2 separate regions of the Homo sapiens genome follow, and region 1 is linked to region 2. The links come from fine-mapping of genetic effects on gene expression. A gene starts in region 2. The other region holds a variant in brackets. All regions are shown on one strand. Distances are from middle to middle.

Region 1 (5,369 bases), 36 kb after region 2:
CTGTCTCAGCCTTCTCCCAGCTGGCTGCCTGGACCACAGAGGCTGGAACGGTAAAAAAAAAAAAAAAAAAAAAAAAAAAAAAAAAAAAAAAACCACACAAAACTTGAGTTACATATATTCCTTCTGGTTTTTTTTTTTTTTTTAAAAGACTGAGTTTCACTCTTGCTCCCCAGGCTGGGGTGCAGTGGTGTGATCTCGGCTCACTGCAATCTCTGTCTCCTGGGTTCAAGTGATTCTCCTGCCTCAGCCCCCCAAGTAGCTGGGATTACAGGCATGTGCCACCATGCCTGGCTAGTTTTTTATTTTTAGTAAAGATGGGGTTTCTTCATGTTGGTCAGGCTGGTCTTGAACTCCCGACTTCAGGTGATCCGCCCCCTTGGCCTCCCAAAGTGCAGGGATTATAGGTGAGAGCAACCGCACCCAGCCTCCTTCCACAGTTTCAATCATGTGAGACTTACATTTGGAACTAAGTGGAGTCGAGGGAGACAGGTAGCAGCCCTCGGGCACTCCTTCTGCTGGTGTGGTTCCAGCAGGGATAGTAAGGCTGGGCCCACTGCACTGTGGAGCTTTCCAGATTCTGGGCTTGCAGTTAGTGTCTCACCTGAGCAGCTGAGTATGCACTGCCTGTGACAATGCCACTCCAAGTAGATCTGCCAGGGACCCTTCCCAGGAAATTATTTATAACAATTCCAGCAGAGATGGCTTCTCATCCTCCTTGAAGCTACTGGACTCTGAGCCCCTGATTCTGCCACAGCTCATCACTCTAGACCTGTCAGGCTTAACACAATTCACTTATCCAACCATTCAATCATCCATCATCCACTTAGCCAATCCAGTCTTTTTTTTTTTTTTTTTTTTTTTTTTTTTTTTTTTTTTTTTTTTTTTTTGAGACAGAGTCTAACTCTGTCAGCCAGGCTGGAGTGCAGTGGCGCTATCTTGGCTCACTGCAACCTCGACTTCCTGGGTTCAAGTGATTCTTCTGCCTCAGCCTCCTGAGTAGCTGGGATTACAGGCACGCATCACCATACCTGGCTAATTTTTATATTTCTAGTAGATATGGGGTTTCATCCTGTTGGCCAGGCTGGTCTTGAACTCCTGACCTCACTCAGATGATCCACCTGCCTCGGCCTCCCAAAGTGCTGGGATTACAGGCGTGAGCCACCACGCTCAGCCCAATCATTTGTTGACTCACTTCTTCAACACTCCCTGAGTTCTTATTCTGTGGCAGGCCCTGGGTCTGGGGCCAAGAACAGGGAGTCAAATTAGATTAGGGCTGTGAAACAAGCCACTCTCAAACCTAGAGGCTTATGACAATACCAATCATTTATTTTCTTACCATTATGCAATTTGGGCAAGGCCTGGTTGAGACAGCTCTTCTTGTGCCTCCAGCTCCATCCTTGGAGCTGGAGGACCCTTCAAAGATGGTGCACTCCAATGGCTGGCAAGTTGATGCTGGCTAGAGCTATTTATTTATTTATTTATTTATTTATTTATTTATTTATTTAAATTCCCCCAGCCAATTGGATGGTAGGGCTAGAGCTTTTTATTCCCTATTTTTTTCATTTTTAAACTTTATCTCCCTTTAGGGGTACACTGTTCCTGGAGGTACTGCAATGCTAGGTAAATGTGTGGAGTGGGTGGGGCAAGCTCCTATTCCATCTCTTAGTTCCAAAAATCTATTTAATATAGATTGTGTCCTCGAATAGAGGACATATCAGATATTAAACTGATAAGAACAGATACTACACTTGATCTTACCCAAAAGGCTGAGAATGGAGCTTTGATTCTCCTCTACATGGGCCTCCCCACAGGACTGCTTGGGCTTCCTCACAGCATGGTGGCTGAATTCCAAGAGAAGAAAACAGAAGCTGCCAGTTCTGTTTTAAAGGGTAAGCCCAGAATTGGGCACAGCTTCATTTCCACCATATTCTACTGGTTCAAAGCAAGTCATAGGCCAAGTCCAGAATTAAGGGGGTGGAGAAGTAAACCCCACCTTTCCATGAGGGACGGGATAAGGAATTTATGAGCATTTATAATCCACAAACCTAACTAGGAGTGCAGTTTCATGCTGCTTGGATTGAGGAATTGACTGGTTGGATAACTGACTGGGTTTGATTAACACAAACTAAGGATTATTTCTCATTATATCTGTTTCCACATGGTGGACCTTTTCTGGAGTAACTAACACTGCAGAAAAGTGGCCTTGTCCCACTTTCTCTCACTCACCCCTCCCAAGAAGTAGAAAAGAGAGTTTTCTTGGTGAAGTTGTTAGAAGCAACTATGTATGGGACCCAAAGTGAGGTAGGAGGCAGGTCTCAATTCTGGAGGTGGGGCTGGGACACCAGACCAAATTGAGGACTTGCTAAAACAGGGATGGGGTGGAGGCAGCTTTCCATAAGACACACCCACCAGTGTGCCATGTCAGTTTACCATTGCCATGGTAACACCTGGAAGTTACTGCCTCTTTCTGTGTTAATGACCAAACGACTCAGAAGTTACCACCTTATTTTTAGAAATTTCTGCATAATCTTCTCCTTAATTTGCATATAATTAAAAGTGGGTATAAATATGACTGCAGAACTACCTCTGAGCTGCTACTCGGGGTAGCCCTGGTGTGCAAGGAACAGTACATCTGCTGCTGCTGTGCACTGCCACTTCACTAAAAGTGTCTGTCTAACAGCACTGGCTCACCCTGGAATTATTTCCTGGACAAAGCCAAGAACCCTCCCGGGCTAAGCCCCAATTTGGGGGCTTGCCTACCCTACATCAAAAGAAGGAGAAACCTTTGGGAGCAGAGTGGGTAAGTCTGTGCAGCTCTGGGACGGGTACAGGGACTTCAAATGCATTTTCTCAACAACTCTATTGGTTACAGAAGTAACATTTTTATCTCTATCCTATGTGTCTGTTTTTCAGATGGTACTAAACTTGGTCAGGGAAAGACAGGGTGTTACATTGTATGCCCTGTAAAAACCCTTGCTCTAAATCTGTCACATACTTGGCACTCAAGAAAAACATGTTAAATGTTAACTAAAAGAATGTTGACATCAGGTGTGAGAGGTTTTCTTCTTCTTCCTTTTTTTTTTTTT[G/TG]AGATGGAGTCTCGCTCTGTCGCCCAGGCTGGAGTGCAATGGTGCAATCTCGGCTCACTGCAACCTCCACATCCTGGGTTCAAGCTATTCTCCTGCTTCAGCCTGCCAAGTAGCTGGGACTACAGGCCGGCACCACCATGCCCAGCTAATTTTTGTATTTTTAGTGGAGACGGGGTTTCACCATGTTGGCCAGGGTGGTCTCGATCTCCTGACCTCGTGATCCGCCCGCTTCAGCCTCCCAAAGTGCTGGGATTACAGGAATGAGCCACCGCGCCCAGCCGGGAGATTCTTCAAGCAGTCATTATATCAACAGACACAGATGTTTCCCTTTCTTCATATGACGAAGCTCAGGGATCCAAACTTATTCGTAAAGCTAAAGAGACACCATTGGTACCCGTTGGAATAGCAGGTTTTGCAGCACTTGTTACATATGGATTATACAAATTGAAGAGCAGGGGAAATACGCAAATGTCCCTTCATCTGATCCACATGCGTGTGGCAGCCCAAGGCTTTGTTGTAGGAGCAATGACTATTGGTATGGGCTATTCCATGTATCGAGAATTCTGGGCAAAACCTAAGCCCTAGAAGAAGAGATGCTGTCTTGGTCTTGTTGGAGGAGCTTGCTTTAGTTAGACATCTCATTATTGAAGTTATGTGTTATTGTGGAAAATAAACTATTTGAGTGGGTTTAGATGGTAACACAGCATTTTGAATATTGGCTTCCTTTCTTGCAGGCTTGATTTGCCTGGTGACTTAATTACTAGTGACTAGTTTACTAACTAGGTCATTCAAGGAAATCAAGTTAGCATAAAAGAAACATGTCACCTAAATGCACTAGATGGTGTTGAAATGTCCACCTTCTTCAATTGTGAAGATGAACTTAAGTTCTAAAGGATATAACAAGCCAACCCTGAAGTACTCCCAGTTTGCTGCAGGATCTCACATGTTTCGGATGTTATATAAGAGTCCTATTTGCCCTAGTTAATTTAACTTTTTTTCTGCCTGTCTTGTGGACTGGCTGGCTCTTTCAGAACTCTGTCTAAAAAGTGCATGGAATAAAACTTGTAAAGCTTCCCACAACTGACAGTATCTATGTGTGTGTGTTTAAACCAAATCTAGAAAGCTTACATTATAGCTGCATAGTAGTGGTATTTATTAAAGAATCACAGTTGTGAACATGAGAATAACTTATGGATTCTAGTTTAGTTATTTTGTAATTGCAGAATTATATTTTTGCTGCTGTTATATCTGAATAATTTTTAAATGTCATCTTGAGATAGAAATATGTATTTAAGCACTCATGCAAAGGTAAATGAGCACCTTTTATTTTATTTTTTTTGAGACGGAGTCACGCTCTGTCACCAGGCTGGAGTGCAGTGGTGTGATCTCAGCTCACTGCAACCTCCATCTCCCGGGTTCAAGCACTTCTCCTGTCTCAGCCTCCTGAGTAGCTGGGACTACAGGTGCACACCACCATCCTTGGCTAATTTTTATATTTTTAATAAAGACAGGGTTTCGCCATGTTGTCCAGGATGGTCTCGATCTTGACCTCGTGATCCGCTGGGCCTCAGCCACTCAAAGTGCTGGGATTACGGGCATGAGCTACCGTGCCCAGCCCAATGAGCACTTTTTAAATGTGTGCATTGCTTATTTTTTCCATAAGAATTACAAACATTAAACTAATCAAATTACCTATAATGGAATTGATTAATGACTTATGAGCAAGCTGGTTTGGCCAGACAGTATACCCAAACTTTTATAAACTATAGAATGTTATTACATTTGTGAAATTTTCTTGTCTAACCTGAATTTACATTTCATGGTGATAACATGGTATATGTACTGTTGTTAAAGTAAGTGACCATCTCAAAAAAAAAAAAAAAAAAGAACGTCAACATCAATTCTGACAGGACAGGAATTTGGACAATGTAGCTTTTACTCATTCATTCTTCCACTAATGCATTCATTCAGCAGACAGTCAAATAACCTGCAATTAGCTTGTGGATCTCTCTACCATGAGACTGAAAGCTCCATGAGGTCAGGGAATGTATTTTGTTCTCCACAATGTCCTCAGAACCTGGCCTGGGGCCTGAACACAGTAGGCCCTCAGTAAATGTTTGTTAATTAAAGGAATGAGATCAGAGGCAAGGGAAGTCCAAAGGCAGTCTAGATAGACCAACAAACTGACCTCATGTGTGGTCAGTCCCACATTCAATGCACACTTCTTGGTGAGGGGGTCATTCAGGGAAAGTTGGAGGGTCTGGCCTTCCAGGCTGGGAGTAC
Region 2 (5,369 bases):
CCCTTCCATAGTCTGTCTTGCCACTATAACCTGATTTACCACCAGAAACTGGTTTTGGCCATGTTCGAGCCCCCATTCTTCCTGTAACCTCAGGATGGTATATAGGCTTCTGTACCCATTGTGGGGCTGGGGTGAACACTCTGTGGTTCCCGACCCCACGCTGCAGGCTAATCAATTTGTATGCCATTTCTCCTACTAACCTCCTTTTGTGAGTTGATTTTTCAGTGAACCTTCAGAGGGCTAAGGGGATGCTTTCCTTTGCCTGTACAATGTATACTAGATACCTGCATATTTGCTGTATACTAATACATGCATACCACATATAGACATGTGTATACTTGATATGTACATGTATGCTCGAGACATACTAGCTACATGATCCTGGAAAAGTTATCGCCTCTGAGCCTCAGTTTCCCTATCCATAAAAAGGAGCAGCGGTGCCTTCTTCACGGAAGACTTAAACAAGAGCACAGGCAAAGCCTTTAGGGAGTCACTGAACAAACAGGGTTCCTCCTCAGGCACGGAGAGGTGGAAAAGCTCTGGGGCCTGGGCTTTCCGGAACTAGCCCCCTTTTAGGCCATGGCCCCCTGGCTCTTCCCTCCCTATTCAAGGGGGTTAGGGGCACCTGTGTCATTGGATGAGCAGTGAAAATGTGGCATCCAGATCCTACAACCACAAGATGGGCAGGACTGGTTCTCACAATCACGGGCTTTGTTTCTGAGATGCCACAAAGGCCACGTTTCCCAGGGCAGGGTCGGGGCCGAAGGCGTCTGGGGTCAGAAGCGACCAAGGACTCGAGGTACCATCTGAGGGGTCGGGGCCAGGACAACGGGGGGCGGGGCGGGGTGGAGGCGGCCCTAGGAGCCCAGGTTGCGGAGAGTGTGGGTGGCGGGTACTGAACTGGCCAATCGGAGGCCAGGGAGGAGCGGATTGGAGGAGCGAGGGAAGGGGGCGAGACTGCGCCCCTGCAGACTGGAGCAGGTGGGTGTGGCGCTGGGCCAAAGTGGATCCGCACTGTGGGTTCCGCACCCTGGGTTCCGAGGGCCACCTCCACCCGCGCAAGGCGGGCAAGGACAGAGTAGGGTAAGGGGCTCTCTAACCAGGCAGAAGGAGGGAACACCCAAGAGTCCTTCGGGCAGGGCTGGGGCCTCCAAGGCTGGAGAGTCTCATCCAGGGTTGCTGGGCATGTCCCTCCCAAAGGCAGCTCATTGAGAATTGATTGGTGTGACTTGAAAAATGGGCCCTGGGCACACCGTCAGGAAAAGCTGGTTTACGTAGACTTAATCCCGAGTCTTTCTTTTCTGCTGGGCTCAGTCAGACCTTGCCAAAGCGCAGGAGGAGTTGGGGGATAGGAGGCTTGACACGTGGAGAAGGCCACACGTGCTGATCTGTTTTCCCCAGCGAACACTCCTTTCTCAGATGGGGCAACTGAGACCGACCTCCGGGAGGAGTGGAATTTGTCCCACAGGATATAACACAAAAGTCTTTCTGTTCTTTCAAGCACTTTCCACCTGATACATACAACCACCTAGGAAAACTGCCAGCCGAAATACCTGCCCAGCCCAGTCACTTCACACATGACAGACCCGAGATGGCACTGAGAGGTCAAATACCTGCTAGAGGGAGGGCTGGCCCCACAGGGTGTGGCCCTAACTGCAGGTATTGTGGGTCATCCTTCCGCATCTCCCCCAGTGCCTGCTGCCCCTCCTCCCCAGGGGAGCCCTCACCTGGAAATGGAAGATGCCGGCATAGCCATTCTGGAAGCTCTGGCCGTGCGGAACCACTCGGTGCAGGAGGGTGTCGTTGAGAGTGAGGGAGGCGATGGCCGCCAAGAGCCAGCAGTCCCCTGGGGCAGGAGGGATGCACATTAGCCTGCTCTACCAACCTGCCCCGGGGGGGGAAGCGGGTGCTAGGGAGAATCTGGGGTTCCTTGGCCAGGGTGCCACTTAACTCCCCTCAGCTTGCAGAAAAGACCCAGGAATCTGGGCAAACCAGCCCCAGCGCTGATAGCCAGATCCTGCCTGGGCTTGCAAGAGGGAGGGGTTGGGGCAGAGCCTGAAGGAGCGGGAATGGGGAACTACTGTGGAAAAAATACCCGGGACCCGACGCCCTGGGGGCCTACCCAGTGCTCCCTGGCAGATGTCTGTGCGGGTAGCTCCATCCACAATGAACTGGGGGTTTGACAGCAGTTCCTACGAGAGACCCAGAGTCCTGTTCCTCGGCCAGCCCCTCCCAGAAATTGGCACCAGGCCACCCCAGACCCCATTCCCCACCAGGGACATGGAGTCCCATCCCTACTCCTCATCCAGGATCTGGCTTAGCCGAGTCCCACCCAGGATGGCCCCTCTCACCGTGGGACGCTTCCACTTGATGCCATAGGTCTTGGAGGAATTGGGACCCAGGTCCTTGTAACCCAGGCTCTGGGGTACCGGGGGGAAGGCCTCATCACGGAAGAGGGTCCCACTCTGCAGGCATCGCACCCGCAGCTGCTCATAATCCTGGCCCAGGTACTTGATGGCATTCTCATGGCGGCCCAGGCCCAGCTCCCTGGCCCGCTGCTTCTGCACTTGGGCTGACACCCCAGTGCAGTACACCGGCGTGATGATCTCCTCCGACATCCTGCCGGACAGATGGGCCTGCTCAGAACCCAGGCCTTCCCAAGACTAGAACCTGGGCTCCTGCCTGCAAGCTCTGCTCTCCTGCCCCTGCTTATCCATCCCCAAACCTAGGGTTTCCCTGCCTCACTGCTCCCCTCACAGAAGTAGGGTTCTCAGCCACCTCCCGGTGCTCCCAGTGAATCCAGGAAAGGGATTTCCCAGTTCCCAGGCGTGCCGGCCACCTCTCCTTTCCCGGATCCCATTGTCAGGGGCTTGCAGCTCTGTAGTGAGCCAGCAGGTCAGGTGGGGCAGGGCGGAGCCTCCAGACAGCACAAGGAACTGGGCAGGTGGGACACAGCAGGGAAGGCCTCTTTGATCCTGTTCACAGGCCTGCAACCCCCTCCCCAAACTAACCAAGCTCCTGGTGCACCGGCCCCTTGCCGTGGGCTGAAAACCCCAGACGGTCGGGGTCCCCCTCCTCAGGCCCCCGCAGCAGGCTCGATATCAGAGCTGGTGGGCCCTAGCCCAGCCCCTGGGGACAGCGGTGAGCCAGGCTGGGACAGGCGCCTGGGCTGTGCCGCTCCGCCAGCCCCCACCCCTGCTCCAGGAACGCAGAGGCCCCCGAGAAGGGACCGTGCTGGGGCAGCCCCTCAGCCCAGGAGCAGTGGCCAGGGTCAAGGAATCCCGGCTCGGCTACCCAGCTTCTTACCTGGGGGAGGGGTGTTTGGGGGTCGCTGCAGTCCCTGAGGCTGGCTTCCCGGTGGCAGCTCAGGGCAGGGCCCAACCAGGAAGAGCGCTCCTCCCCGCCCTCCTCCCGCCGCCCCTCCGCCCTCCGCCCTCCCTCTCTCCTTCTCCTCCTCCTCCTCCTGGGGCTCCTACCCCGCTTCCTCTCGGCTCTCCCTTATCTCTCCGGCACGGTCTCTGACTATCTCTTACTCACGGTGTCTCCCCGCCCCTCCCTCCGCAGGCCGGGGGCCAATTCCGCGAGAGGACAAATTAGTAAAAGGCAGAGCAGTCCCCGGGGAGGGGCCAGCGCGGGGGGGGATGGGGGGGCTGGGGCGCGGCGGAAGGGCACCGCGGGGAACGGAGGGGGAGGGCCGGGCAGGGGGTATTTTTAACCAGGGGCAGCAGCTCGAGTTGCAGGGCCGGACGGCCGCACCCCACGCGCGCCCTGGCGGGCATTCCGGGGCGATTGTGCGGCGGCGCCGCCTCCCGCAGCCCCGGGCCCGCCCGGTCCCCAGCTCCCCTCGCTCCGCGCGACCGCAGCTGCTCCCGCCGTTCCCAGCCAGCCCCGGCGCGGGGCCGAGATTACCTCGGGCTGCGGCAGCTGCTCTGAGGAGGGGCCGGGCTGGCAGCGAGCAGACCCCTGCCGGACACTCAGCAAACGGCAGCCTCACCCCGCAGGGCCGCGCCACTCCCCTTCCCCACCCCACCGCCGCGTCCCGGCTCAGCGCTCCCCGGGGAACGCAGGGGGACCGGGCTCGCTGCGTGACCTTGGGTAAGTCCCTGCCCCGTTCGGCCCGACTTTCCGCATGCGTGCATCCTATGGGATGGGGTTGGGCAATTGTGGGAGCCCATCTTTCTCTAACGTTCTGGGGTTTCTTGAACCTGGAAACTTAGAGAGGTGGACATCCCTGTTCTCTCCCCCAGGCTCTCAGCCCACCCACCTGGAAGCGCCCATGTGTCACCTTACCCAGGAGAGGGCGGCAGAGGCTGCGAGCAGGACGGCAGCCCCCTCTCCCCACCCCCAGGACCCTGAGATCCTGCTTCACGGGCTGCAAGAAGTTGGGGGGCCAGGATTCGGCGCGGAGGCCGGGGGTGTGGGTGGGGAGACTGCAGAGACTCCCGAGACCCCCCCAAGTCAGGGCTTTTCGCTGGTCTCGCAGCCCCAGCCCAGCAGCTGCTGCAGTCTTGCATGTTGTGGATGCAAGCATTTTGCTGAGGAAACTGCATAGCGTTCCCAGGACTCTAGGGCCCACGACCCCTCAAAAGTTAAGAGCCGCTGATCTAATCTAACCCCACTTTCACCCTCAGTTAACAAAAGAGGAAAACTGAGGCCTGAGAGGGTGTGACTTGCCTGAAATACCTAACCTGGTGAGTGATGGGTGGAACCAGCTCCTAGGCTTTCTGCGCAGGTGTCCAGGGACAGAGAAGGGTGGTTTAAACTAGAGAGGTGGCAGGCAGAAGTAGATGGATTTGATAACTATTTAGGATACACCATCAAAATTTAACTCAAACTGGATTACACACCTAAATATAAATGGCCAAACCATAAAACTTTTTTTTTTAAAAATGGAGACAATCTTAACAATATTGGGTTTGAAAAGATTTCTTTTTTCTTTTCTAAAGGCAGGGTCTTGCTTTCATTGACCAGGCAGGAGTGCAGTGCCCTGATCACAGCTCACTGTAACTTTAAACTCCTGGGCTCAAGAGATCCTCTCACCTCAGCCTCCTGAGTAGCTGAGACTACAGGCACGTGCCACGACACACAGCTAATTTTTAAATTTTTTGTAGAAATGGGGTCCTGCTGTGTTACTCAGGCTGGTCATGAACTCCTGGGCTCAAGCAGTCCTCCTGCCTGAGCCTCCCAAAGTGCTGGGATTACAGGTGTGAGCTTTGGCACCTGGCCAGATTTCTTAAATATGACACAAAAAGTGTAAATGATAGAAGAAATCAATAAATTGAACTTCATCAAAATAAAACGCTTTTGTTTCTCAAAATGCACGAAACTATTAAAAATGAAAAGATAAGCCATAGACTAGGACGAATATT

The links. PIP is the estimated chance that this variant, and not a neighbour inherited with it, causes the effect.
Region 1: its variant is fine-mapped to the expression of CAPN1 in whole blood (INTERVAL, PIP above 0.99).

Annotation. Positions count from the first base shown.
Region 1 is chr11:65,143,993-65,149,361 of GRCh38, reverse strand. It overlaps the pseudogene HIGD1AP10 and the pseudogene RNU2-23P. Among named protein-coding and RNA genes, the nearest start is that of SYVN1, 12 kb to the right of the region's middle. The variant G/TG (reference allele first, on the strand shown) is at 3,087.
Region 2 is chr11:65,179,951-65,185,319 of GRCh38, reverse strand. CAPN1 (calpain 1) reads right to left here and starts at 3,392. Exons shown (of 22, transcript NM_005186.4): 1 at 3,307-3,392; 2 at 2,352-2,619; 3 at 2,123-2,192; 4 at 1,728-1,846. The coding sequence starts at 2,618. It overlaps CAPN1-AS1 (CAPN1 antisense RNA 1), which reads left to right and starts at 3,486. Exons shown (of 2, transcript NR_145677.1): 1 at 3,486-4,095; 2 at 4,248-5,369. RefSeq lists enhancers at 1-153, 1,337-2,126, 2,127-2,915, 2,916-3,705 and silencers at 2,728-3,022, 3,624-4,073.